Regions from separate parts of the Homo sapiens genome. Here all the other regions are reported to be linked to region 1. Evidence: microRNA targets listed by miRTarBase, many of them from high-throughput screens and not tested one by one. Region 1 holds a microRNA gene; each other region holds the end of a gene's coding sequence. Distances are from middle to middle.

Region 1 (4,089 bases):
TATTCACAGGCTGGAGTGATGTTGCGGTGGACTTAATGCCCCCTGAGAGGTCTGACTTCAAGCCTGTGGGTGACACGGAGCTACTGTTTTTGAGTTGGACAGGGACATGGTCAGAACTGTGCTTTCAGAATTTGGACTTGGCCACTGGAAGAAGAGACAGTTAAACTCAAGTTGCCCAACATGAGGCATGGGATGGGAGAGGTTGGGGAAGGGATGGAAGGAAACAGAGTGGGCACCAACAGGAAGGAAGCAAAGTCAGGAACTGCTGGCTGGAATGGGTCCAGGGAGAGGGAAAACCACTTCTCCTTCCTCTTCTTATGATTGCAAGATTAGTACTTGAGAATTAGGCTGCACAGGCCAGGACTTCCCAAAACTCAGGAGGGAAAGAGCCCAGAGCACGTGTCTCCAATGGAGGCTATAGTTCCAAATCACGTGATCATCGGTCATCTCCTTGCCCACCCTGAAGCCCTTGTCCCCAGTGTACTTTGGGCTCAGACAGTCCCTCAGGGGATACAGCAGTGTCCTTTCCTTCAGCATTCAGGGCAAATGAGAGGCAAAGAGATCAATGGAATGCAAAAGCGTTACTATAGATGAGAAGTCGGACGCACAGAGAGGTTCCACCACTTGCCTAATATCACACAGCAAGTACATGCCAGAATCAAAATTCAAACCTAGAGCCCCGGTGTAAACCTTACCTGAATCAGTCAGGGAGCAGCAGGGAGGCAGTGGAAGGATAGGCCCCCTGACCTCACTCCCCGCCTGCCTTCCCATCCTGCCAGTGCCTTCCAAACTGATACCAGAGAGCATGGCAGCCCTGTGTTGCATCCACCCTGATAATGCATCCACACAGGTCAGCCTTCTGGGCACAAAACAAGGCAGAGAAGAGCAAGGAGTGGACCTGGAGGGGCCCACGGAAGCTCCCCAGCACCCACCACTCCAATGGCCCAGCCCCTGGTAGGTCTCCAGTGCCCTTCACCCTACAGAGCCACAGAATCCCCAGACCTTGACGCTGCAGCTAGGGCCCGCCTGCCTCTCAAGAGAAGGGCAGGGCCCCACACAGGCAAGTGCTCTGCCTCCGCGCAAAGCTGGGCATGCGTCATCACACTCCCGCCTTCCTTCCTCATTCACTCTCCCTTGCCCTGCTTCTATCAGTGGCTCCAAGACGCAAACATCTCGAAATGACCTGCTTCTGTGTAGGTCAGCTAACAGAAGTGCTGTCTTAAGAAATGAGGGCCAGCTGATGCCCACTACCAGACCCAGCCAGCCCCTCCCAGCCTCCCTGCCAGCCCTGCACATGGAGGCCTGGCGGCCAGGAAAAAGAAAGGGCTCCTATCTCTGATTCCTCAGGGCCTCTGATAAGAAATGTCATCCCTTGCTGGGTAATATTACCAAGCCAGATAAAAATCTCTATCAAGCTTAAACATATGGCTGGCTGCAGAACACAGAGTCCAGTGGAGAAGGGTAATTTATTTGCTTAAGCTGAAAACCCTGGGCAGCCGAAAGAAGTGCCTGAATAAAAGAGTAAGAGCCAAATTATAACCTCTTCTGACTTGGCATGGGGATTTTTCCCTGGGAAGGATGAGACACCTGAGAACAACAGGGGGCTCTCCACACATTTCTCCTGACACAATAAGCGCTTTCGCCTTCCTCTTTCTTCAAAGGGCACTTTCACTTATGCTATCACATTTAATCCTCACTACAACCTCAAGAGAGGCATTTTTAGCTTCCTTTACAGATCAGGAAATTGAGATTCAGCAAGGTTAAGTAAAGTGGCCAAGGTCACACAGGCAGCCATGCTGGAGCGAGGACCCAAACCCCAGCAGGTCTGACTCACCATCAGATGGGGAAGCTGATCCCAGCTTCTGGGGAGGATCGGCTCATACATCCACTTAATCAGCGAAGTCAGATCTGCCCAACTTAACTGACAATGTCAGCTACACATTGTAATCTTGAAGGTCCATTTCAAGGCTCTCCCGTCTCCTTGTTTCTCTGTAGCCTAAAGGATAATGAGAAAGCCTTGCAGAGCACAGAAGCTCAAGGAAAAGGACGGGAGGCCAGGGATAGTACCCAGGAGAGCAGTGAGTGACCTCAGGGCTTAGATTCCAGCCTCATATGCTCAAGGAGTAGCAGGTAGAAGGAAACTGTGGAAAGAAAACTCCTCTCTCTGTTCATTCATTCATTCACAAATATTAGTGGAAAGCCTATTGTGTGCCTTCTCTAGCTTGGCCTTGGAGATACCAATGCAAATGGGCAGGCTAGGACCTGCCTTCATGGATCGTCTGTCTTCTAGAACTGACTTACAGGTCAGTAAAGAGGCAATAGCCACAGAGTGTGTTAAGTGTGTTTGTGAATGCAGAAGTTCACGTAACTGATCTGGGGTTGGTGGCTGTGCATTAGTGTGTAGCTGTTAGCATACTCCACACAGTGTTCTAGGCACTATTCTTTAAAAAGTCAGCATTGTTAAGGTTGACTTTGCTCTTTGGTAGTTAATATAGCTTCAAGATTGTTCCCAATTACTTCATATAGCCACTAATTTTTTTAGATTAATTTTTAATTCACAAATAAAAATTGTATATATTTATAATATATGATGTGAAGTTTTGAATGATGTATACATTGTGGAATGGCTAAGTTGAGTTAATTAACAGGTGCATCATCTCACATACTGATTTTTTTTTACTAATTTTTTAAACAGCTGTATTAGTGTTCCATTTTATCACAACTTAATCAACCAATCACTAACTAATGAGCATTTAAGCTGAGTCTCGTTTTTCTGTGTCAAACAATGTTGTAATGAAGATTCTCTTCTCATCATGCATGTGTTTCTGCATGAAAAGTTCTTAGGATTCGCCCAGTGTTTTTTAAGCTTGGCTTTTCCTGTGCTCTTCACTGCAGCAGTAGCAAGGTCTCAATAGCGTCCTTTACAAGATAATGGCTCCCACGCGCCCATCCTCTTCAGACCTGGTGGGGCTCTAGTAAAAGGGTTTTAGTTCTCTTTAGTGAGCAACTGCCACCATTTCCACAAAAGCACACAAGAAAACAAAAACGTTTCCATTCTGGTGGCCAAGAAACCACTCCTCTTATCCCTGCCTCCTCTGGCCCATGGTGACTTAGTTCAGAATCAAGCGGAACTTAGCAGCAAGACACCAACCTCTCTTCTCACAGGTCATTCCTAGAAAGTGTCAGCTTTCCTTTTCTTCTGGACTCTGAGAGATTCAAGAACACAGAAAGCCCAAGGCTAGCAAATCTCCACTGAAGCTCAGCATACATCAAAAACTAAAGCCTGGTGGAGAAGGCACAGCAAATGTCAACTGCACACTTGGGAGCCCAAAGTACCTTGGAGGAAGGCATCAGTCGTCCAACAGAACACCTTTGGATAGTCAAAAGATAAAGAGAGTATGACTCCATGGCTGGAACAAAGTAGAACCTCAGACAAGAGGACATCCTGTTCATGAGAGGTTGGCCATCCACTGAAGACACTGTGGGGGACCGTGAAGGCAGAGCAGACATGAGAAAGGCAGAGCCCCACTCCTTGGTCCCCTGGAGAAAACCAAAGAAAGGGCTGTAATCTACGTGATTAGAGATGGAGAAACTAAGAGCCTGGGGAACAAAGGAAAGGGCCTTACTCATTCTTCCTGGACAAGTTAGAGAAGAGGATATTTGAGTTAGATATTGAAGAGTGAACATTTAGAAGACAGAGAAAAGGGAGAGGACCTTCAGATGGTACTCACAGAGCAGTGTGGCATGGAGAGTGAAAGAATGTTCAGCCAGTGGCCAGACTGTAAAGGGTATTTCTCAGGTGCTGTGCTAAGGAGCTGGGCTTCTCCCTCCAGATGCGATGGGGGGCTGTGTAGGCTCCAGAGCAACAGAATGACAGATTAGAACTATGCTTCTCCATCACCATGGAGCACGAACTAGTGAGAGAAGACTCTCGGCCATGTGGGAACCAGTATCCTACAGTTCTAAGAACATTCCACAAGGCAACAGATGCAGTGGCTTAAACAGAGGCCTACGGAGCCAGGCTCCCGGACTTCAGATCCCAGCTCTGCCATTCCCAGGTTGAACAAGTTACTGACCGACCCCGTGGAC
Region 2 (4,089 bases), not on the chromosome of region 1:
AATAGAAAATGACTATTCTTTGTCACAAAAGCAATATAACTCTAAAACTAAATATATTGAAAACAAAAGTTCTGATTTTTCCCATGTACTTTTTAAGCTAGATACCATTTGTCATGGAAAGCTCTGAGCTTGAGCAGCTCTTTGAGCTATACTAGCAGCAAACTGAGACTCCCCTCAATGTAATCAATCAAAAACATCAAAAGAGGACTGAGGAGGTGAATAATGTAAGACATTATCTAATGTATTTAGTGCCTTATCCCACTACCATGTAAACAATAATCTCACATTAGGTGTCCTACATTTTGGGAAAAGATGACCTTGTCTTTTTCGTATTGTAAGTGTATTTGAAACTTATTTATACAACTGTAGTGATGCCTCCCCCTTCCCAGCCTCACTTGACCCTGGCTTCTGTCTGATGCTCTACTGACTGTCTCGTTCCTGGTTCTCCTGTGTAGGTACACACTGGCAGCTCAGGACCTGGTGATGCGTGCCCGGGGTGTGCTGAAGGACAGAGGATGGCGGATATCTAATGACCGACTGGGCTCAGGAGACGACATTTCTGTATATGTCATTCCTTTAATACATGGAAACAAGCTGTCATGAAAATGGCCCAGGGGATTGGGAGGACAGAGGGGAAGAAAGCTGGGATGCCTCTTGGCAGGACGGAACTGGGAAGTGCCCCAGCTGAGTTCCAAGTGATGCAGTCTCTTCCCAGCCCAAGCGGGGAGTTCATGGCCAAAAGACTATGCTTCAAGATGACCCTTTGGTTTCCATTTCTTCTTTAGTAACAGGTCAACTCAACAAGAGCAAAACACAAAGGCTGCTACCAAGTGTTGTTGTATTTCAGTTCCTTTCATAGGCCTCCGAGGTGGCCATTGACTATTTGGGGTATATATGTCATATTTATTTTATCTAGAGTAGCTGGGGCAGCCATTTTCAGGTGTAAATGGCAGAGGACTCTTCAGCCTGTCAAGCTGCCAGCTTATCTACGGGTTAAAAAGTGCTGCATTGGAAAGTAGGGGGTCATGCCTCAAAATGTAAGTAAGTGCCCACCTTCTAGGAAGCCTGAGGTTTATTTCAGGGATTGCCGTCTGCCCCCCGCCCCCCTTCTCTTTTTTTCTTCTCTGTTTCTATTCTTTTATGGCAGTGGTGGAGTGAGGCAGGGATTTTTTTTTTTTTTTTTCGTGTTTTTGACATTCCTTGAATCTGTTTTTTATTCCCCTTCCACAGAACAGGCCTGGGACTTTCCAACACCCTGCTAAGGAAGTTCTGTGTCCAAGTCCCACCCAGGCTGGGTTGTCCCCACCTCCTCCAGCCCACACAGCCCAGGCAGCATCCGGGCCAGTGCCCTGCATGACAGAGGGTCTTTGTTGTGTAATGTTTGTTCCCAAGTTGCATTTTCTAACCGAATCAGTGTGTTTTCATGAAACTGAGTGTTTCTGTGGACCAGTAGTTCCTCTGTTGTCTTCAGTGGTCTTCCTGTGTGGCTCAAGGGTTCTCTGTGAGAGTCTGGATTTTCATTTCTGGAATGGCTGGCCCCATCCCACTTTTCTGTATCATGGGGACACATATAAAGCAGTGTTTAATAGAGCAGTTTAAGAAGTTGCTTGCATCTGTTGGTTCACCATGGCTCATCTGGGGACCATTTTGGATTCATGTTTCATGGCTTGTGACTGTCCCCAAGCCCACTCCAAACAAAGTGTAAGGATCAGAGTTCTGTCAAGGAGCAGCAGTTCTGCTCTCCCCATCATCTTTGTGCAAGGCCCCTCGGGGGGCACTTTAATAAAAGAATTTGAAATGGGTTGACTGGCCATTCTCATGCTGTGCTCCCTGTCTCTTCTCTTCTCTAAAGAATCATGTCCCAGCTCCTCAAGGTCCCTCTATGGTTCCACATCTGAGTGTTCGCCACAAGAGCAGCAGCAGCAGGCACAGTGCATGCCATATCTACCTGCTGCTTCTCTGCTGGGAGGAATGGCCAAGTAGATTATAAAACTCACTTCTGTCTCTTAGGCAGACTTGTACGGCCACAAAATTACCTAGTCTTCTTCCTGCTGAGCTACTGAGGTATTGCCACCATTTTGACAACTTTGAGTAATTAAAACACTCTTCTGACCCAAAAAGGAAAAAAGGTCACTGACGTGACCCCCCCAGCATGCTAGAGAGCTAATTCCAGTTCTCATATTTGTTTGAATTTCTTCCCAGAGGAGAGGATAGGAACCTCTCCTCCAGGGCAGTAAATCACCTGCATTTCTGGAGTTGTCGGTATTGTATTCGAAAAGGCCTGGAGCCCCTCCTGCTCAGGAAAGAACTCATTCCAGGGTGTGGAGACAGTGCCGTCTGGCAGGTGAAATACTGTGGGAATTCACGCCACCAGGTGTTTGTGCAAGTGTTGGCCTGGGAAGAATGGGACTTCGGCCTTGTCAGGAGTTGTCTTCATCTGCAGCACGTTTCTTCCTCCTGCAGTAGATCTTAGCTACCCCAGATATCTCTATGGAGAGAAGTTTGTGGAAAATGCTTTGCTTCGTGGCAGAGTCTGATGCTGTAGGAAAACCTTCGGGCATGTGACAGCAGTGTGGTCCACTCCCTGTTCTGCCCTGGCACTCAGAGTCATGTGTAAGTAGGAAACCTGAGCAAGTCTTCCGTGGAGGACCCTGAGCTGCCGTCTTTGGGATCCTTCCTGTGTCCCCACCGTCTTTCATTTATTTGCTTTCCTGGGCCTCTATCTGGGCCCTACCTTGAGCTTCTCCAGTTTTATTCAAGCCACCAGAGTAAGAATTTGGGTGTAGATGTCACAACTACCTTCTACTCAATTCACCAATTCATTTACTGCTATGGCACGTCTCAGGAATAACTCTAGAAACCTCTAAATCGAAATATTATAAAATCTTGAGCACTTAGTCCTGCTGGTTTTAGTTAGAAAGGCATCCAGGAATTGTTTTCCTACGCCCCCTTGAGTGGAAAGATCTTAGTTAGAAGATAAAGTCAAGTTTGTGTTCAGGGGATGGGAGGAAGACTATAAATAAGATGAAGAAATCAAAAGTAGGAAACATGATGTAAACGAAGCATGGCAGATCTGTCCAGCACTGATATTGCTCTATAAATTGAGCTTACTCAGTTTTGGCCTTATTTTTTTACCCAGGCCCCATGTCACCCAGTCCTAAAACAGTAACCGTGTCTACATAACGGGTTGGCCCCTGGTGCATCCCTGGAAAAGTCAAAGGACGCACACTTCGAAATTCTGCAGAACGTATTTATACATGGTTCAGAAATCTTGCGTATCTGACTTATAGCCAAATCTGCTTGCTCGAATAGCCTCAGAGGAAGTCTTGTTTAATAAAAACCTTTTGATTTCCTAGTCAAGTCTTTATGGTTGTCTCGAGGGGTGTGTGGCTACTTTAATGAAAGGCTTTCCTGCTCTAAATCTCTTTGCTGGGCTGGGCCTCTTCAGACTATCTGGTGAAACTCCTTTCCTTAGAACAAACTCAGTCCGTCCATGCTCTGTGGCATTTTGCTAGATGATAACCAAAGCCTTATTCCTGTAGCCAGTGTCAGCAGTCAGAGAGGTGGAGGGTGTGTTCTGCTGTGGTTATGCATACCTATCTGCTGTTCTTGAGGTGTAAAAGGAAAGGTGAAAATCGGGCCAGGCCAAGTACTCAGCTGTCTTAATAGGATGAAGCCTTAAGCAGTGGAAATTTCAGTTATTTTCCACAGTATTCCATTTTGGAGGATTTGGGGTGTTTACTTTTTAAATTCTTGAACAACTTAACCTCCATGAGGCTTTGTGAAGTCAGCTGTGACCACCCTCCTCTTACTGTGTTCTCAGTATTCATTCACTTCCAGGGAAGAATGACAGCCACAGGGAGATGGTGGTGGGCAAGAATGAGAGTCCCAGGATCCAGATTTAGCCTCAGATCTTCCCCATTCAGGAAGGGTTTTCCATTTAACAAGAGCACTAGTATGAAAACATTAGGGACAAATCTCCCATGTCTTTGAAATTCGGATTCTCCTCTTGAGATCCCCTTCCTCACCTGCCAATCAACTTTATAAGGCCACAAGTGGTCACTGGTTTTCCTTCCACAGGTTTGAGGT
Region 3 (4,086 bases), not on the chromosome of region 1:
TGTCAGCTTGTCCAGGAAGCTCCCTCTAGTCCTCCACTCTAAATCCTGCCTTCCTCGTGCGCCTTTTCAGAGTGTGCTGTGCTTTTCTTCCCCTGCACTTATCACTGTTTCTAAGTTAAGTACAATTTGGGGGTGATCAGTTGTTTTGCATCTTTCTCCCCTGCCAGAGTCTAACTTATATGGTAGGGACTTGTCATTGTGCCTATCACTATGAAAGGCACAGAGTAAATGCTCAGTAAATAATTGCTGAACTAATCTAAGAAATAGGTGAGAACTGGAAAAAAAAAATAACAAAGTCATTTGACTTAAAAAAATGCATTCTGTTTACTTTAAAACAGCAGGCTAGGAAAAACAAACAAACAAACAAACAAACAAACTTGAATGCTGGCTTATCCAGAAATACCACCTTGGCTTTCTTGCCCCGGACTTTTGTGCTATGAAATTTCACCAGCAACTGGTCCCTGGGAGTCTCCCTCAGACCTGGATGTCCAATGATGTGAACAGAAAGCAGAGATCACACAGGTTGACCCATGGCTCTGGTTTCACAAGGTCTATCCTGATTTTAAATTCTCAGGGATAGTTTTTAAAGCTAACTGATTTGTTTATGTGGTCCTGGTATCTTTCCCTGAGAGGCACTATGGCTATTTAGCGTTTTGAGAATCTCAAGTTCAGATGAGACCTATAAACAGAACTGCTGATCCCCCAGGCAGCAGGAAGTGAGGAGGACAGGGAAGCTCAGGGCCCCGCACAACTAATGTCCTGGGGCCCAAGTGCTGCATGAAGGGTTTTTGCCTCTAGGTTTTGAAAGTGTGTTTTGGTCTTCCAGTGTTCCTTAAGAAAATGCCCCTCTTCTGGAATAAGAAGAAATCCTAACGCAATGAGGCCCTACAAGTCAGTTTGACAGTGACTGGGAGCAGACTCTTTTGACAAACAGAAGGCTGGGTAACAGGGGGCGAACTATAAGGTGTCACTGTCTCCTCTGGTCTCCCAGCCCCATTTATCTGCACCTGTCCTGCCCCCATTTGTGTAGCTCTTCCTTCACAAAGACTTAGTCTGCTACTTAGGGGGAGCATGGCTCAGCTTGTTATCTCCATAGGGCACTGTGCATGGAGCTTCCCCAGCACACACACACACACACTAAAGCCATTACTTCTTCTGCGATGGATGTCAAAATCTCCAACCCGGTCTTCACAATAATCAGTCAAACTAAAACTCATGAGTTCAGCATTATCCAGACATATAAAGCATCTGAATATTTGCCTGGACTCTACTTGCTTTTAATTTCTTCTTTAAAAAATCTTTCCGAGCCCTGCATATTGCATTCAGCCAGCCCTACCACCTTAGAAAAGTGAGCCCAAGAAACGTGTGCATTGAAAAGATGATGTTGTTAATCTCCAAAAGAGATGAGAATGATTTCATACTGGATGAGACGTTTAGAAATGAATATTTGAATGAGAGCCACAAACTGAGACCCTTCATGACTACAGTGAATTTGGATATCTCGCAGAGGAGATAATGCCAAACCATACACCGGACACACAGCTGGGATTCGCCAGATGCCCCAGGAAGGGTTTATTTAATTCATTCCAACAAATGATCCTATAATGCATTTATGCATTTAAAAGCACAGAGACACAAGTCCTCATATATGAAGTTGTTATGGTTACAGAAAGAAAATAAATATTTGTGCACACAGAGATAGCATGAAATCATTCTACAGTGAAAATAATAGCCTCTGGAAAAAGCTTTGAAAATCAGAGATGGTGCCACCACCAGACAACACAAGTGCTGGGGTACAGGGCAGCCCTCCATGCATCTCATAGCATTTGCATGGTTTGTGAGCCCCATTTAATGACATAAAATGAGGGCACTGAGGGAGGAAAAGTGAACAGACACACAACCCGAGAGCACATTGTTATTTGTTTATTTTGTACAAGTGATGTCATAAGCAAGGATTTTGCCTGTGTTCTAGATTATCTCCAATAAATAAATAACTATGTACAAATATTTTGAGTTTACAAAATAGAAGAGGAAAACCTTTGTCTTACAAAAGTTACATTTCTATGATACATTTATTTCCATACACTGAAGCAGGATTTCATTCCTAGCTTAGCTGAACCAAAGACCTTGCAGACCCTGTGTGGCAGTGTCTAGAGCTGTGTACCTAGCCTTTTCTACCAAAGAGCAAAGCTACACAAAGAAAATTCCTCAGTTTCTTGAAAATAAGGGCCTGACTTGGCCTGCTACTTATAACTGATCTATATTTCATGTATTCCAGAAAATTGGAAGCAGTCTGGAATGGTTGTCCTCAAATTACTGAGCAGACACACCCCCTGCAGATCTTGTTAAATATAGATTCTCATGAACTGGATGGGGTGGAGCCTAGGATTCTGCATTTCTAACCAGCTCCCATGGGCAGGGCAGCTTCCAATTCTTGTTCAGGGGCCACATTCCAAAAGGCCTCTCTGAAATGGTAGAAATTCTCTGAGGACCTGATTAAGGCTAGGCCCTAATTGGGCATCCTCCAGGATCCATTCCCAAGCTCCCAATTCCACAAGACCAGTAGAGCTGGTTTTATTTTGGTCTACCAGTGACAAGGAACAGTGACAGTCAATTGCTAATTGGCATGAATCATGCAGTTTGAAGCTTTCTTGAACTGTCTCCTGGGAGGTGTTTGTCTCTTCTCTCAATCTAGAGCAACCTTCTGAACATTTTCAACACTGTCAAAAATAAGTAATAATAACAAAAAAGGAAATTGCATAAGAAGATTAGCAACAATTACCATTTTTCAGTACAAATCAAAACAGCAACAAAATTCAGGCTCACTGTTTAAAAGTAAAGATAAATACCTCTTTGGGTGTAATTTCTATGACAGTCCAGCAACATCAATTTAATACCTTTTACATCTCAACCTTTGTTTAAAATTATTTTGCTCTGGGAATCTGAAATTTCAGGATAAATTAGCAAATCTGGTGAAAAAGCAAATGGCCATTTTTATTTTTAGTGTTTTTGTTTCTGTTTCATGTAGGGGTTCTGTCTGAGCAGACAGCTAAGAGCAAAAGAAGTAGGGTCAGGCACAGGTAGGGTGACTCAGGTGAGTTGGCCCAGTTCCTGGGAGGAGAAAACTAGGAAGAATGGGGAATAAGTGGGGCTTGCTTCATAAATGTGAGAGGGCTAGGAAAAAAAAATTCACCAAGATAGTTTACCTGTCACATGACAAGTGGGAGTTTGTAGAGAGAGAGAGACCGGAGAGCTGTGCAAAGTGGATACTGGAGACATACAGGTAAGAACAAAGGAAACAAACAAAAACCTAAATACTTAAAAAAAATAAATATTTTAGTCATCCCTAGCCCACGAGGTCAAGGTCTGCCCAGAAGGCTGCCGACCAATAACGCTCACCCTCCTGCGCCCGGTAGTGAGGACCTGGGACAAATCGCAGTCTGTGTCTTCGTTACAAAATTGCCATCATTGCCCAGTGGTCCAGTGACGTCACGGAAGAGGCCGAGGCTCATTCTCCTCCCTCTAATCACCCCCTCGCCAGTTAGCCATGGAATAGAAGAAAACAGCTTGGGGGGTGCGGGGAGGGTCTTCTCCAGCTGTAATGCCAGCTAAGGTGCTTTGGTAGCAAAGCTGGGGGTGAGGAGGCACAGGCTCCTGGACGGAGCCAGGCTCCTGGACGGAGGCCGCTCAGAGTCTCTGCGGCGTCCGCTCGGTCCGCACGTGCTGCAGCACTACCTCCTTGGAAGGGGCCGCGCACTTGTACTCCATCTTGGCCCTGGCGGCGCCCTGCTTCTTGCGCAGGTGGCAGAGGAGCGCCAAAAGCGCCACCACCAGGCACAGGCTCGCGATGGAGATGCCTATGAGCAAGCCCGAATGCACGAGCCCCACGGCCGGAGGAGTCAAGGTGGAGCCGGGCGTCGGGCTGGGCGGGGGCTCGCCAGAGCCGCTGTCGCCACCGTCCACCTTGCCGGAGTCACAGTCGGTGCCAATGTGGCGGGCAAGGGCCGAGTCGGGCCCGCAGATGCACTCGAAGGTACCGGGGAGGTTGTGGCACACCCCGGAGCAGAAGCCGCCGTTTTCGCACTC
Region 4 (4,083 bases), not on the chromosome of region 1:
GGGGAAGTCTGGTTGAATGGATGGTTCCTGGCCGTCAGTAAGACCCGATGAGAGTTGAGCCCGACTTCCCCTCTGGGACCCTGTCTTCCCAGGTGGAGTTTGTCCATATGCTCAATGCTACCATGTGCGCCACTACCCGTACCATCTGCGCCATCCTGGAGAACTACCAGACAGAGAAGGGCATCACTGTGCCTGAGAAATTGAAGGAGTTCATGCCGCCAGGTAAAACTCCCAGCTCATCTCATCGTTCTCCTCTTTTCTGTCTTCACACTCTTCTAAATAGCAGTCCCCTTTCAGGATATACCAGGTTTTTTTGTTCAGACACAGCCCCTGAAACTCTGTCTGCCCTCTCGGGCTGGGCAGGGCAGGGGGCCTGGTTGAGAAAGTAGCCAGTGCAGGTATGATGTTGAAATGCTGCTAAAATTCAGACTAGGGAAGAAAAGAATAAAGGAAACCAGTGCCTATCAAAGGGACCCCTCTGTTCAAAGGGATCATTGTCTTGTTGAATTCTCCCCAGAGGTCTTAGGGCTTTGACTCACTGAGAAACAACAGGTCATTTGGTTGGCTCTTCCCTCCCAGGACTGCAAGAACTGATCCCCTTTGTGAAGCCTGCGCCCATTGAGCAGGAGCCATCAAAGAAGCAGAAGAAGCAACATGAGGGCAGCAAAAAGAAAGCAGCAGCAAGAGACGTCACCCTAGAAAACAGGCTGCAGAACATGGAGGTCACCGATGCTTGAACATTCCTGCCTCCCTATTTGCCAGGCTTTCATTTCTGTCTGCTGAGATCTCAGAGCCTGCCCAACAGCAGGGAAGCCAAGCACCCATTCATCCCCCTGCCCCCATCTGACTGCGTAGCTGAGAGGGGAACAGTGCCATGTACCACACAGATGTTCCTGTCTCCTCGCATGGGCATAGGGACCCATCATTGATGACTGATGAAACCATGTAATAAAGCATCTCTGGGGAGGGCTTAGGACTCTTCCTCAGTCTTCTTCCCCGGGCTTGAACCCCGCCTCTGAGGTTCTCCCTGATATACACTTCTGCTTTTCCTTCCAAATTAGGCTGCTCCCTCCAGTTAGCAAGTCACAGAGCCTTTGAACAGGTAAGCGAAGGGAGGGGTACACTTAGAAAAAGCTCAAGGGGAAGGTGGAAGATGGAGTCTGAATCACAAAAGCTTGCAGGGCAAGGGCCAGGATCCTCCTTTACAAATATATTCCTGCTTGAAATCATTGAGGTAGGACTAGCTTAGAGACCAGAACTGTTTTAAAAGCCTCTTAGCACTTCTGTTCCCTACAAAGGACTCTGTGGAAAGCGAGAGGCTGTATTTAATCCAGAAGAGCCCCTAGCTTCTATGCCTAGCATGGGTTGGGGACTTATTAACAGCAGTTTCTCTCGTTACAGCCATCCCCACATGGGGAGACCAACTGCATACCAACTTGCTGCTGCACCTCCAAAGGATTGGGATAGCCAGCAGGGCAGAGGAGAGGAGAAAATGTTGTAGCCCCTTTGTGGAGCTCCCACTGTTGCCCTAATAGCCAGTTCCTTTCTCAGGGGAGGCTGATGTTCAGGCTGTTTATTTACCTGCTGCCTTTCATCTGCAATCTACAAACCCTTTACTTTAATAACAGCTTCTGTTAGTTTAGTGCCTCTCTCCTAGGAGGTTAAAATACTCCCTATAGATGATCTCTTTTATCTTTGTGATGGTCCCAGAAGGTAGGGTGGGGACATGATTATATGATTATGCTTATTCCATCCTTTGGAAGACAGAAATACAAGGACGGTAAGGGAGATGAGACAACGTGGCCTGATGGAGGTCGGAAGTCCTGACTCCTCGGCAGTGCTTTATGTTTCTTTGGGAGGTTGAGAGCTGGAATGTGAACTGGGCTGTCACTTAGGAGCCTTTATCTCACCTCAGCTTCCTTAGTCCCTGAGCAGCGACTTGGGCCTGCTGGAGCATAGTACCAAGGAAAGGGGCCATGTGCTCCATTTTCCACTGGGGGCTTGAGATTGATCCTATTAATCTTGCTGCTGGAAACCCTGTCAAAACTGAGGTAGGTGCGTGAAGGGGTGACAGTGGCTCTCTTGTCTTGCCTGGCTATGCCAGCTGGGGGCCCACAGGCAGACCCGCCTGGGCCGTAGCCCATTGCCCCAGCTCTGGGATAACAAAGCCGGGACAAGGGGACAAAGAGCAAGCTGCTCCCATTTGTAATTCAGAAGGACCAGAAACTCACATTTCCTGTGGCCTCAACTATTTGGTTTGAAGAAAGGCAGCGTACACAGTGTGCAGGAGGCTAGTTTTGCCCCACCCCCTATACCATTCCAGAAGCCCACTGGGAACTCTCACAGGGCCCTGAACGCCCCTGCTCTGCCTTAGCTCTGTCTTAGAAGTCCCTACAGCTGCCTGCACCACTCCCCACGCCTACCTGCTTAGGCTCCTGGTGCCTGTCACCTTCCTACCAGTAGGAGGCTCTGCTTTTTGCCATGGCCCTGAGAGCTCTGTGGGAGGGCAGAAGCTGGGGCTTTGAGTCCCTGAGGACCCAGCTGACTTACCTGCTGGAGCTGGCTGCCTGGACTCTCAGCTGCTTTGTGCAGAGAGACCCTCCTGCCTTGGGCAGCCCAGCTTTCCCTGCCAGCCTTCCTCCTGCCCGTGTAGGGACTGGTGTAGGAGCCTGGCTAGGAAGATGGCTGTATGGACAAACTGGCTTGTTAGCAGAAAGTAACTATAAGGGACCCCATGCTTCCAGAAGCCAGAGGAGAGGAAGTCAATGGTAGTGAAGGCAAGGATGACTGTGGCTGAGGTCCCTCCCCACAGGTCATACCCAAGAGCACAACAGCAGGAGGGCACACACGGTCACCGAGTGCTTACCTTGTGCCAGGCACCATTAGGAGCAGGGTTTACAGAAAGAAGGTAACACAGTTCCTGCTCACAAATAACTGTTGGGAAAGGTGTGGTTCGCCTTCCTTCAGAGAGGGAAAACCAGACACTCTCCCTCCCTGAGGCAGTGGGATGGGGCTGATGCAAGCTTCATTTAGGAGGGGCCGACCCACCTGGAAGCCGAGCAGTTGGGAACAGGCCCAATAGCCTTGACTCCACCCTGGTAGTTGCCTCCGCATCCCACGCCTGATGCCCTCATCTCTGGCACCTTGACCTGCCCCATCTCCAACCTCAGCTACCCAGGTTACCTCAGTTAGCAAACACCCTCCAGAGGCCTAGTGGAGTGAGTCAGAGCCCTGGGTCCCTCACCAACCCTGGGTTCCCACACCCAGGTATTCAGGGCCCAAGATGCAGGTCTGGGTGCTTTAGGCAGGGAGTGAGGAAACACTGGGACCAACAGTCTGGCCTCTCCACCAAGAGAGACAACCATAAGCCAGACTTCTAGAAACTCTAAAGAGGCTGGTAACTGGGGACCCAACGTAAGGCCGAGGGACCTGCCTGCGCTCACAGTCCAGGCTGGGCAGGGCAGCTCATTAGCCAAACACTGAAACCTCACTCCTGGGAACCAACATTCTCCTAGCCGTCTGTCCTGCTTTTCCTCCCCTGAAGCTTTTCCGGTTTACCCCAGGTCCTGAGAATGCCTCCTCTCCCCGAGTCCCCATCCTTCCCCAGGGGGTACGCGGCGGGGGCGGCCCTGGCTGCACTCCCAGGATGAGTCTGACAGGCAGAGCTGGGATGGGCGCCAGACAAATGTACTGCGTGTCGGAGCCTGTGCCGGGATGAGGGGCCTGCCCCGCTCTCCCAGTTACCTCCCAACATGGGGTTCCCCAGCAGCTCTTCCCAGGTACAAAAGGGGAGTGCTTCCTTGCAGCCTGGACTTGGCCAGGTCCTGGTGGGGCTGATGCCTCGGCCTCTGACATTGCCCTTTTAAGAGCCCTCTCCGGCGGGGCCAACCTGTAATCCCAGCGCTTTGGGAGGCCTAGGAGGGCGGATCGCCTGAGGTCAGGAGTTCGAGACCAGCCTGGTTAACATGGTGAAACTCTGATTCTACTAAAAATACCAAAAATTAGGCGAGCATGGTGGTGCGCACCTGTAATCCCAGCTACTCAGGAGGCTGAGGCAGGAGGATCGCTTGAACCCAGGAGGCA
Region 5 (4,089 bases), not on the chromosome of region 1:
TCTCCTAGACCCATTCTAGTGAAAAATGTTTAGTTGCTGCTTTCTTATATGTAGGATTAGGAGGTTTAAGTATGTGATAAAATGTAAGGCCTCTTCTGGTGTTAAAATGCTGAAGTATTTTATATGTAGGTATGTACATATATCCTTATATATGTGTGTGTATATTATATGTATGCACACACACACACACACATATATACACTTTTTGTTGCAACATCTATTAAGCTTTTGGTTTTGTTTGCTTTATAAAATTAGAATCATATCATATATGCTATTCTTTTTTAACCTGCTCTTTTTCACCTAAAAGATTGTAAGCATTCTCTAGATTATTGAATCTTTTTCTGTCCCTTGATTTTTAATAATCACAGGGTATTCCATCATCTTGGTGTACTAAATCAATTAACTATTACTCCATTGTTGAACCTGTAGGTTGTATCTCTCCACTGTATTCCTCTTCTTTCTTCAACTAGGATTCTAAATTGACTGATAGGTTAGGCCTGGGCATCTGAGATATTAAGAATAATATGGCTCAATATATAGATCAGATTGCCATATTATGTAAACAACTAAAAAACAAATTGTACTAAGTATGGTTTCTGTGCTCCTAACAGAGTCTCTCTGAATTACAGGCTTTAATTTTCCTTGTGGTTGGAATATTCTTCATGATTGGAAGCATGGCACTCATTATAATTGACTGGATTTATGATCCTCCAAATTCCAAGCATCACTAACACAAGGAAAAATACTTTCTTTTTCTATTGGAAATGGTTACAAGTTATACTCCAAAAGATATTTGAATTATCTTGATTGGAATGTTATTCATAGGAAATAACAGGAAGATTCCAAAGACGTTTACCAGTAATATCACCAGGCACCTGCAGAAGAGGAAAATCACTGTTTTTGTCAAGGATGGTTGTGTATGTGTTTAAAATAAAACCTGTGGTGCACATTTCTACCCAGGTTTTGCTAGAGCAGTGTGAGATGATGAAGGTGTATTTTTGCTGCTTTACGAGCAGAATAAGGGTAACTGCATGTAACAATCATCAGATAGTACTCTTTCCCCTGCCGTCTCCTCATCCTGCACCCCCTAAAAAAGTACCAAACATTTGCATTCTCAGAACATCAAACAAAAATGCCCTGGTGGCAAAGCTATCACCATTTAATGTCTTCTCTCAGTCTTGCACCAAAGTCTCTGGTCTGTTTACTAACAGAGGCAAAAGGCATGTCTTAGGAACTGTTTCTGTTTCTGTAAGGTACATGAATGGTCAAACACCAGTCTAGAGCATCTTATTGTCAACAGCAAAATAATATTTTGCCCACCCTGTTTGTGACATTGAGTTGTGACTTCTATATTCAATAGATTTTTGTAAATGTTAAAACATCTATATTTAAATGTTAAAACACTAAATATAGAGAGGGGCTTTATTTCAATCATAGAGCAACAACAAAAATAATGCTTATAGCTAAACTGCCTGTTCTAGAAAGCATCTGCTTTTTCATGTTATTCCTAAATCCTCTTGTCATACTTTTGTCATTGAACAATGCTCTCCCTCTCGTCTTCCATCCTCATTCAGAATTTTTAGAAGACCACAATCGTGGAGATACACTACCCAGTATTGTTTGATACATTTTTATTTGATAAACATTCAGTGCAGGAAACTGTGATTTGCTATATGTTTATGTATATAATCTTATTCTGTAGTCATCAGAATGTTAATGTAAGGTACATTTGATTTTTATTTTTTACATGTGTAGTTTTCTTTCTTCACAGTCAAAGCATTTATATTATTGGGGGTGGGGGCAGGGAATTAAGTTGGTGGGCTCGAAAATCCATTCATATGTATCTGTCTACAAATGTCTGGGGATAATTTAAATTTGAAACCTAAGTTATATATAGTTTGGCAATGCTCTTCTTCAATATTTACAATAATAGGATGATCTACAAGAAAATAAGTTTCTTTTTGCAAATTTTTATCATACTAAAGTTGTTCTTTTAATTTAGCATATCTAAAATAGGATTTAGTTCAGTTTAGCTCACACAGGTGTTTGCTGACATTCATTGGCCATTTAATACAGTGTTGAGTGGTTCTCTGTAAAAGTATAAGTGCTAACACTACGAAGAAATGCACACGATCATTCTTGCTCACTTCTATAACAAACTTACATAAAATGGATTTAAAAATTCCTACTCACAGCCTAAAACTTCTGGAGTTCACTACCTTTTTTTCAAATCATAGTAAGATCACTTGTGTATTTTATATTTTAGTAAAGCCAATTATGAAGTACAAGTATCATACACGTACTTTTGAGCTACTATTATTTGAAAAAAATCTGCCAAATAGCATCTTTAGGATATATTTACATTTTCACTCATCTAAAAAGTATACAAAAATAAAAAGTGGAAAAAGGTATCTTCTGAATGTTCAAGAGCATCCTATAGTGCCAAATAATAAAGCACCATTTTTTTCTTCATAACCAGGATTAAAATTCATATATACTGCAGGGCAGACATACATATGATAGCTTGTGCTGATTAATTTAACCCCATTTGTAAACAGATGAAAATTTTATTTTCTTATTTCATTTATAAGATGGCTCAATGTATTGGGAGGCTTCTTTTTTATTACAGAAAGTGTATATTGGTATATAATAAATGAACTTTTCAAATGACTATGATGTGATTTTTGATCTATTGTTAAAGAATGTTGTGTTATTTGTCCATGAAACAAAATTTAAAATCCAAATACTGTCTTTCTTATATTGGTTTATGTTCCATTTTCATTGTTACCTTTGACACATAACTAACATCTATAGCCATCATCCTGAAAATAATTGCCATCTTATTTTGGCAAAATAGATATTTAATCCTAAATTATTATGATGATTATAATTTTGGCATCACATATATACCACCTAGAATGAATGTGGAAGAAATGAGTCTTTTATGGTTAGTTTGAAAGAATCCATTGAAGATAGAAAATGAGAGAATAGAAGAAACCTGAGAATAGTAAAATAAAGAGCAGAGAAAATATGGGGGCAGGGAAAACATGTGAGTGCTAAGGATTGATTATGAATGAACGATTAGGGGGATTGACGGATCACAGGGTAAGTATATGCTTAACTTTATAAGAAACTTCCACATAGTTTTCCACAGTGTTTCTACCATTTTCATTTCCACCCGTACTACCTACAACTTCCACTGACTCCACAGCCCTGCCAACATTTGGTGTTGTCTTTTGCATTTTAGCCTTTCTAGTGGGTCTGAAATGGTAACTCATTGTGATTTTCATTTCTGCTTCTGTGACAACTAATGTTGAAAACTTTTCAAGTGTTTAATGGTCACTCATATATCTTCTTTTGTGAAGTGTGTATTCAAATCTTTTGCCCATTTTTAAAATTTAGGTTATGTGTTTTTATTGGGTATTTGTAGAAGCTCTTTAAATATGGATCCATGTCCAGATTGCCAATATATTTTCCCAGTCTATGGTATGGTTGCTTATTTTCCTAAAGGTGTCTTAATTACATCTTTCTGGGGCCAGGTCACCATAGCTCAAAGTTTTGCAATTTATGTCTTAATGAGATAAAATTAATCAGAGTGGTATAGTCAAAATTAAATGTTTTGATGTCCTGGGCCCATATAGGTAGGACTGGATCATCTAACCAAGATGCAAAAAAAAAAAACAAAAAAACAAAAATAGTACTTGGAAAAACTTATTTTAAATTAAACATCTTTATAAAGGCAAACTAGATCAGCATACATTAAAACTAGCCACAAGGCAAAAACTATACCAAGAAAAAAATGACAGAAATTTTAAAAAGAAGCCTCAGAAGCCTCTTGACATGGTATGGATCTGTGTCCCCACCAAATCTCATGTAGAATTGTAATCTCTAATGTTGGAAGTGGGGCCTGGTGGGAGGTGATTGGATCATGGGGGTGGTTTTGGTTTAACACCATCCCTTTTGGTACTGTCATAGTGAAAGTGAATGAGTGATCTCAAAATCTAGTTGTTTAAAAGTGTGTGGCATTTCCCACTTCTCTTTTCCTTCTGCTCTGGCCTTGTGAAGTGCCAGCTCCCTCTTCACCTTCCA
Region 6 (4,089 bases), 5.2 Mb from region 1:
TATACAACCAAACTGTGCCCCGATCACCTTGGGCACAGGTCGTCAGGACCTCCTGAGGCTGTCACAGGCGCCTGTCCTCAGCCTTGGCAAAATAAACTTTCTAAATTAACAGAGACCTGTCTCAAATTTTGGGGGTTCACACTTCCAAAGAATGAATATGGAAAAGTGGAAAGGGTAACCTGACGATAGAGAAATCTGGCAAACACTACCCCAGCCACGCCATCACCATTAATCCCATCAGTGATAAACCACAGTGATAGCGTGTGGCCTGGATATGATGTGAGAAGCAGGACAAATCACCTCTGTGGGTTTCCCCGAAAAACCCACAGCCCCAAGTTGTACTGTGAGAAAAACTACTTACAAACCTCAGTGGGGAGACTTGTGACAGAATGTCTGACTAGTGCTTCTCAACGCTGTTGAAGAAAAGGGAAAATCTGGCCGGTCGCGGTGGCTCACACCTGTAATCCAAGCACTTTGGGAGGCCAAGGCGGGTGGATTACCTGAGCTCAGAAGTTGGAGACCAGCCTGGACAACACAGTGAAAACCCGTCTCTACTAAAATACAAAAAAATTAGCTGGGCGTGGCAGCCTGCGCCTGTAATCCCAGTTACTTGGGAGGGTGAGGTAGGAGAATTGCTTGAACCTGGGAGGCAGAGGTTGCAGTGAGCCGAGATCACACCACTGCACTCCGGCCTGGGCGACAGAGCAAGACTCCATCTCAAGTAAAAATAAATAAATAAATAAATAAATAAAATAAAATCTGAGAAACTGTTACAAACCAGAGGAAGCTGAGACATGATGACAAAATGTAATGGGGTGTCCCAGATGGGATCCTGGACAGAGAGAGGACATTAGGGGAACCCCAGTGAATTCTCAATATGGTCCAGGGCTTAGTTAACAGCAACGTCCAACTGATCTCCCGGTTGTGACAAGTATGCAGTAACGTCAGATATTAGTGACAGGGGTCACTAAGTACAGGCTATATGGCAACTCTCTGTATTGTTTGCAACTGTCTGTATATTTTAAACTAATCTTAGTTTAAATAAGAGGTTACACTAAAATCTCTTTTTTTTAATGTAGAGTAGAAAACAAGCATTACAATGGTTGTCACTGGGCATGAGAAAAGGAATGATCTTTCCACATACATTTGTTTGTAATCCAAACAAAATGTAGCCTGGGTACGGTGACTCATGCCTGTAATCCCAGCACTCTGGGAGGCCTAGGTGGACGGATCACTTGAGGTCAGGAGTTCGAGACCAGCCTGGCCATGGCAAAAACCCCATCTCTACTAAAAATAAAAATAAAAATAAATTATCTGGGCATGGTGGCGCATGCCTGTAATCCCAGCTACTCAGCAGGCTAAGGCACGAGAACTGCTTGAACCTGGGAGGCGGAGGTTGCAATTAGCGAAGATTGTGCCACTGCACTTGAGCCTGGGTGACAAAGTGAGACTACGTTTCAAAAAATAAAAATAAATATTAAAAATAAAAAAGCTGTTTTCCTCGAATTATAGGTTGGAAAGTTTTTTATCCTCATCATTGTGCTGCCCAAGCTACTGGGCAATTGAAATGCAGCTGGTCTGAATGCATTGCGAGTGTGAAACACACTAGAGTTCCTAGAATGAAAAAAGAATGCAAAATACCTGGTCAATAGTTTTTATAGAAGTGGTAATATTTTAGACGTCTTGAGATAAATGAAATGTATTATTAAAATTAATTTCATCTGTTTCTTTCCACTTTTGAAAATGTGGCCACTGGGAAATTAGAATTAACATATGAGCTGACTTAAATTTCTGCTGGACGTGATGCTCCGAGGAAAGAATTCCAGAGATGAGGGGCTGGGGTCCCCTAGGTGTCAAGGACGGGCAACCCCCCAGTGAAACAGCCATCCCTGCACTGCAATGTTTCACACACACAATCTCTCAGGGACAGAAAAAAGACACAAGCCGCTGCAAAGTTACAAATTTATTGGTCTGGAAATAAATACAAATATCTCATTAAGAAACTCCTCTGGAAAGACTTGTGCACAATAGTTTCCCATCCGTACTCAGCCTCTCTTGCCCCGATCCCCGACTTTTCTACTCAAGGCCAGGGAAGGCCTCCAAGGTGATGGGCGGCAGGTAACGAGTCATTGCCTCTCACGCCACCTGGAAGGCTGGACTACTTCCTCCTCCCAACTGCGGGGTCCCAGAAATCCTCGGGTCCCAGTGGCTGACTTACAATATTCAATTCACTCTGACCAAACTTCCTATGAGAAAATCCACGGTGAGCCAAAATGAAAAGTACAAGGCAGTAGTACAGGAACCTGGCAGCCGCACTGGCCGCCCAGAAACGTCAGTGGTGCTGCCCCATTCGGCGAAAGGTTAGGGAGCAGGAAAAGAGGAAGCAGGAGAGGGAAGGAAAGTCCCATGGAATATGTATTCCAGAATCCTTACATTTTCTCAGCCACCGCTCCCCACGTGAGTTCCCACCCCCACCCCGACAAGAGCAAAGAGTTCTGAGGATCCAAGAACGTGACCGGGTCAGACAGGTTCAGCTACTGAGTTCACGTTCCAGCCCAGCTGTCGAAGATTGAAAACTGGATTTAAGCCAATCACACAAAATTCCTGGAACCAAGCTGGGATCCACAGAAATCACAACTGCACTGGATCTCAACACAACAACAAGGAATCCCTTACATCGAGTAACCCCAATTCCACCCCCACCCCAGTGCTCCTACTCCGGCCCCTGCAAGGACACTCATCACAGCCAGGGCAGCTGTGGAATGTTGCCCTCCATTCTAAGGAATGCAAAACAAATCTAAATGATCTTCTCCCTGAACAAGAATAATCACTGGCTCATGTATCAGGGGTGGGAGGTTGGGGCTGTGGAGGAGAGGCAGAAAGCAGAACTAAAGCCTTCAAAAACCATGATGCCCAACGTTTGCTGAAATATTTTTGTCTGTAAAGCCAGGAGATTTTGTCGCCTGCTTTTGCTGCACATTAAGAGGATGCTAGAAAAATCAAGCTTGTTTGCTTCTGCATTCAAAGCTTTCTAGATGCACCAACTTTAAAAATCGGTTTCTTCAAGTTAACTACGTAGATTTGTTGTTCCAAATGCCTCTAGCCTCGACATGAATCCCACCTTTTCCCCCTTCCTGTTTTGCCTGTTTAAAAGAGGTGCCTGCATGTCACTATTACCCCCCTCCCCAAATGAGAAAAGGATTTTGTTTCCGGAAACTGGATCAGCTTCTCCTCAGTTAAAGAGGAAACGGGAAGTGGGCGGCTGGCCTTCTGACCAGGCACCCGTTTGAACCAGGATGCTCAGGGCGGCCTAGGCTTGGCTTTGTGAAGTGTGTGCTGCTACGCGTCTTGTTTTTGGCAGTTTGGTGTCTCTGAGGGAGGGGAGGAGAGTGGCAACCGGCCACTGGTTAATGGAAGAGGATGCGATGCGGAGATGCTTGCTTCCTTCCTTTGGTCCACCGCCACCCCGCCTTTGGAGAGGGCACCCACGTAATAGACCTCATTTGTCTCCACCAGAGCTCACTCTTACAAAATAAGCTTTGGATTAATACCGAGTTAGGCGCAGTATGGCAGGCAGGGGGCGAAAAGGGGCCGGGGAGGAGGGGGCCACTACAGAGATCAGAGTCCGGGGGCGGCAGCTGGGCAGGCCGCCTAGCAGGAGACCTCCATGGACTTGGGCCCGGCGCTGTTCCCAGCAGCACCCGAGTTGGGGGTGATGTCCAGGTGGGCCCCCTCGCTGGTGTGCGAGCGGCTGCGGGTGCCCTCGCTGGTGTGGGAGCGGCTTCGGGTGCCCTCGCTGGTGTGGGAGCGGCTGCGGGTGCCATCCAGAGAAGTGACGCTGGAACCAGAGGCTGTGCGGGACCGCATCAGGCGGGTCATGCTAGCCGAGGGCACTAGGGGAACAAGAGACAGCCGGTTAGAGGGCAGGAGACTGCCAGGTGAGGAGCCAGGCATGCCCGTCCACCAGCCACATGCTCTTCTACGTGCCAGCCCCAGAGAAGACTTGATCCCTGCAGCCATCCAGCTGCTGGGCCCCCGTCCTCTCCATGTCCACTCGGAGAGAGAGATGGCAAGGCCCAGATGCGGGAA

What was found. The annotated mature microRNA hsa-miR-1207-5p reads UGGCAGGGAGGCUGGGAGGGG and lies in region 1 at 1,265-1,285, opposite strand. An mRNA with a match to its seed (bases 2 to 7 or 8) in the 3' UTR can be bound and repressed. Matches are read on the target gene's strand: a 7mer-m8 pairs with bases 2 to 8, a 7mer-A1 pairs with bases 2 to 7 and ends in A, and an 8mer does both.
Region 2: the mRNA of PPM1H is a reported target of hsa-miR-1207-5p. Seed matches in the 3' UTR shown: 7mer-A1 at 4,028-4,034.
Region 3: miRTarBase lists THBD as a target of hsa-miR-1207-5p. Seed matches in the 3' UTR shown: 7mer-m8 at 2,415-2,421.
Region 4: miRTarBase lists SARS1 as a target of hsa-miR-1207-5p. Seed matches in the 3' UTR shown: 7mer-m8 at 832-838.
Region 5: miRTarBase lists SLC38A4 as a target of hsa-miR-1207-5p. Seed matches in the 3' UTR shown: 7mer-m8 at 1,061-1,067.
Region 6: miRTarBase lists NDRG1 as a target of hsa-miR-1207-5p. Seed matches in the 3' UTR shown: 7mer-m8 at 3,573-3,579 and 7mer-A1 at 3,568-3,574.

What each region holds. Positions count from the first base shown.
Region 1 is chr8:128,046,355-128,050,443 of GRCh38, reverse strand. MIR1207 (microRNA 1207) reads right to left here and starts at 1,292; the gene lies at 1,206-1,292. The region is part of intron 6 of PVT1 (Pvt1 oncogene); the gene reads right to left. RefSeq lists a cis regulatory region at 901-1,153, enhancers at 1,032-1,577, 97-2,213 and a silencer at 1,766-1,949.
Region 2 is chr12:62,645,003-62,649,091 of GRCh38, reverse strand. It overlaps PPM1H (protein phosphatase, Mg2+/Mn2+ dependent 1H), which reads left to right. Exons shown (of 10, transcript NM_020700.2): 10 at 456-4,089. The coding sequence ends at 603. Among named protein-coding and RNA genes, the nearest start is that of MIRLET7I, 43 kb to the right of the region's middle.
Region 3 is chr20:23,044,090-23,048,175 of GRCh38, forward strand. THBD (thrombomodulin) reads right to left here. Exons shown (of 1, transcript NM_000361.3): 1 at 1,544-4,086. The coding sequence ends at 3,688. Among named protein-coding and RNA genes, the nearest start is that of THBD, 3.5 kb to the right of the region's middle.
Region 4 is chr1:109,237,152-109,241,234 of GRCh38, forward strand. It overlaps SARS1 (seryl-tRNA synthetase 1), which reads left to right. Exons shown (of 11, transcript NM_006513.4): 10 at 93-222; 11 at 580-1,031. The coding sequence ends at 737. Among named protein-coding and RNA genes, the nearest start is that of CELSR2, 10 kb to the right of the region's middle. RefSeq lists enhancers at 1-1,049, 2,990-3,685 and silencers at 2,174-2,588, 3,696-3,990.
Region 5 is chr12:46,763,343-46,767,431 of GRCh38, reverse strand. It overlaps SLC38A4 (solute carrier family 38 member 4), which reads left to right. Exons shown (of 17, transcript NM_018018.5): 17 at 630-2,671. The coding sequence ends at 731. Among named protein-coding and RNA genes, the nearest start is that of SLC38A4, 61 kb to the left of the region's middle.
Region 6 is chr8:133,235,227-133,239,315 of GRCh38, forward strand. It overlaps NDRG1 (N-myc downstream regulated 1), which reads right to left. Exons shown (of 16, transcript NM_006096.4): 16 at 1,949-3,893. The coding sequence ends at 3,652. Among named protein-coding and RNA genes, the nearest start is that of CCN4, 46 kb to the left of the region's middle.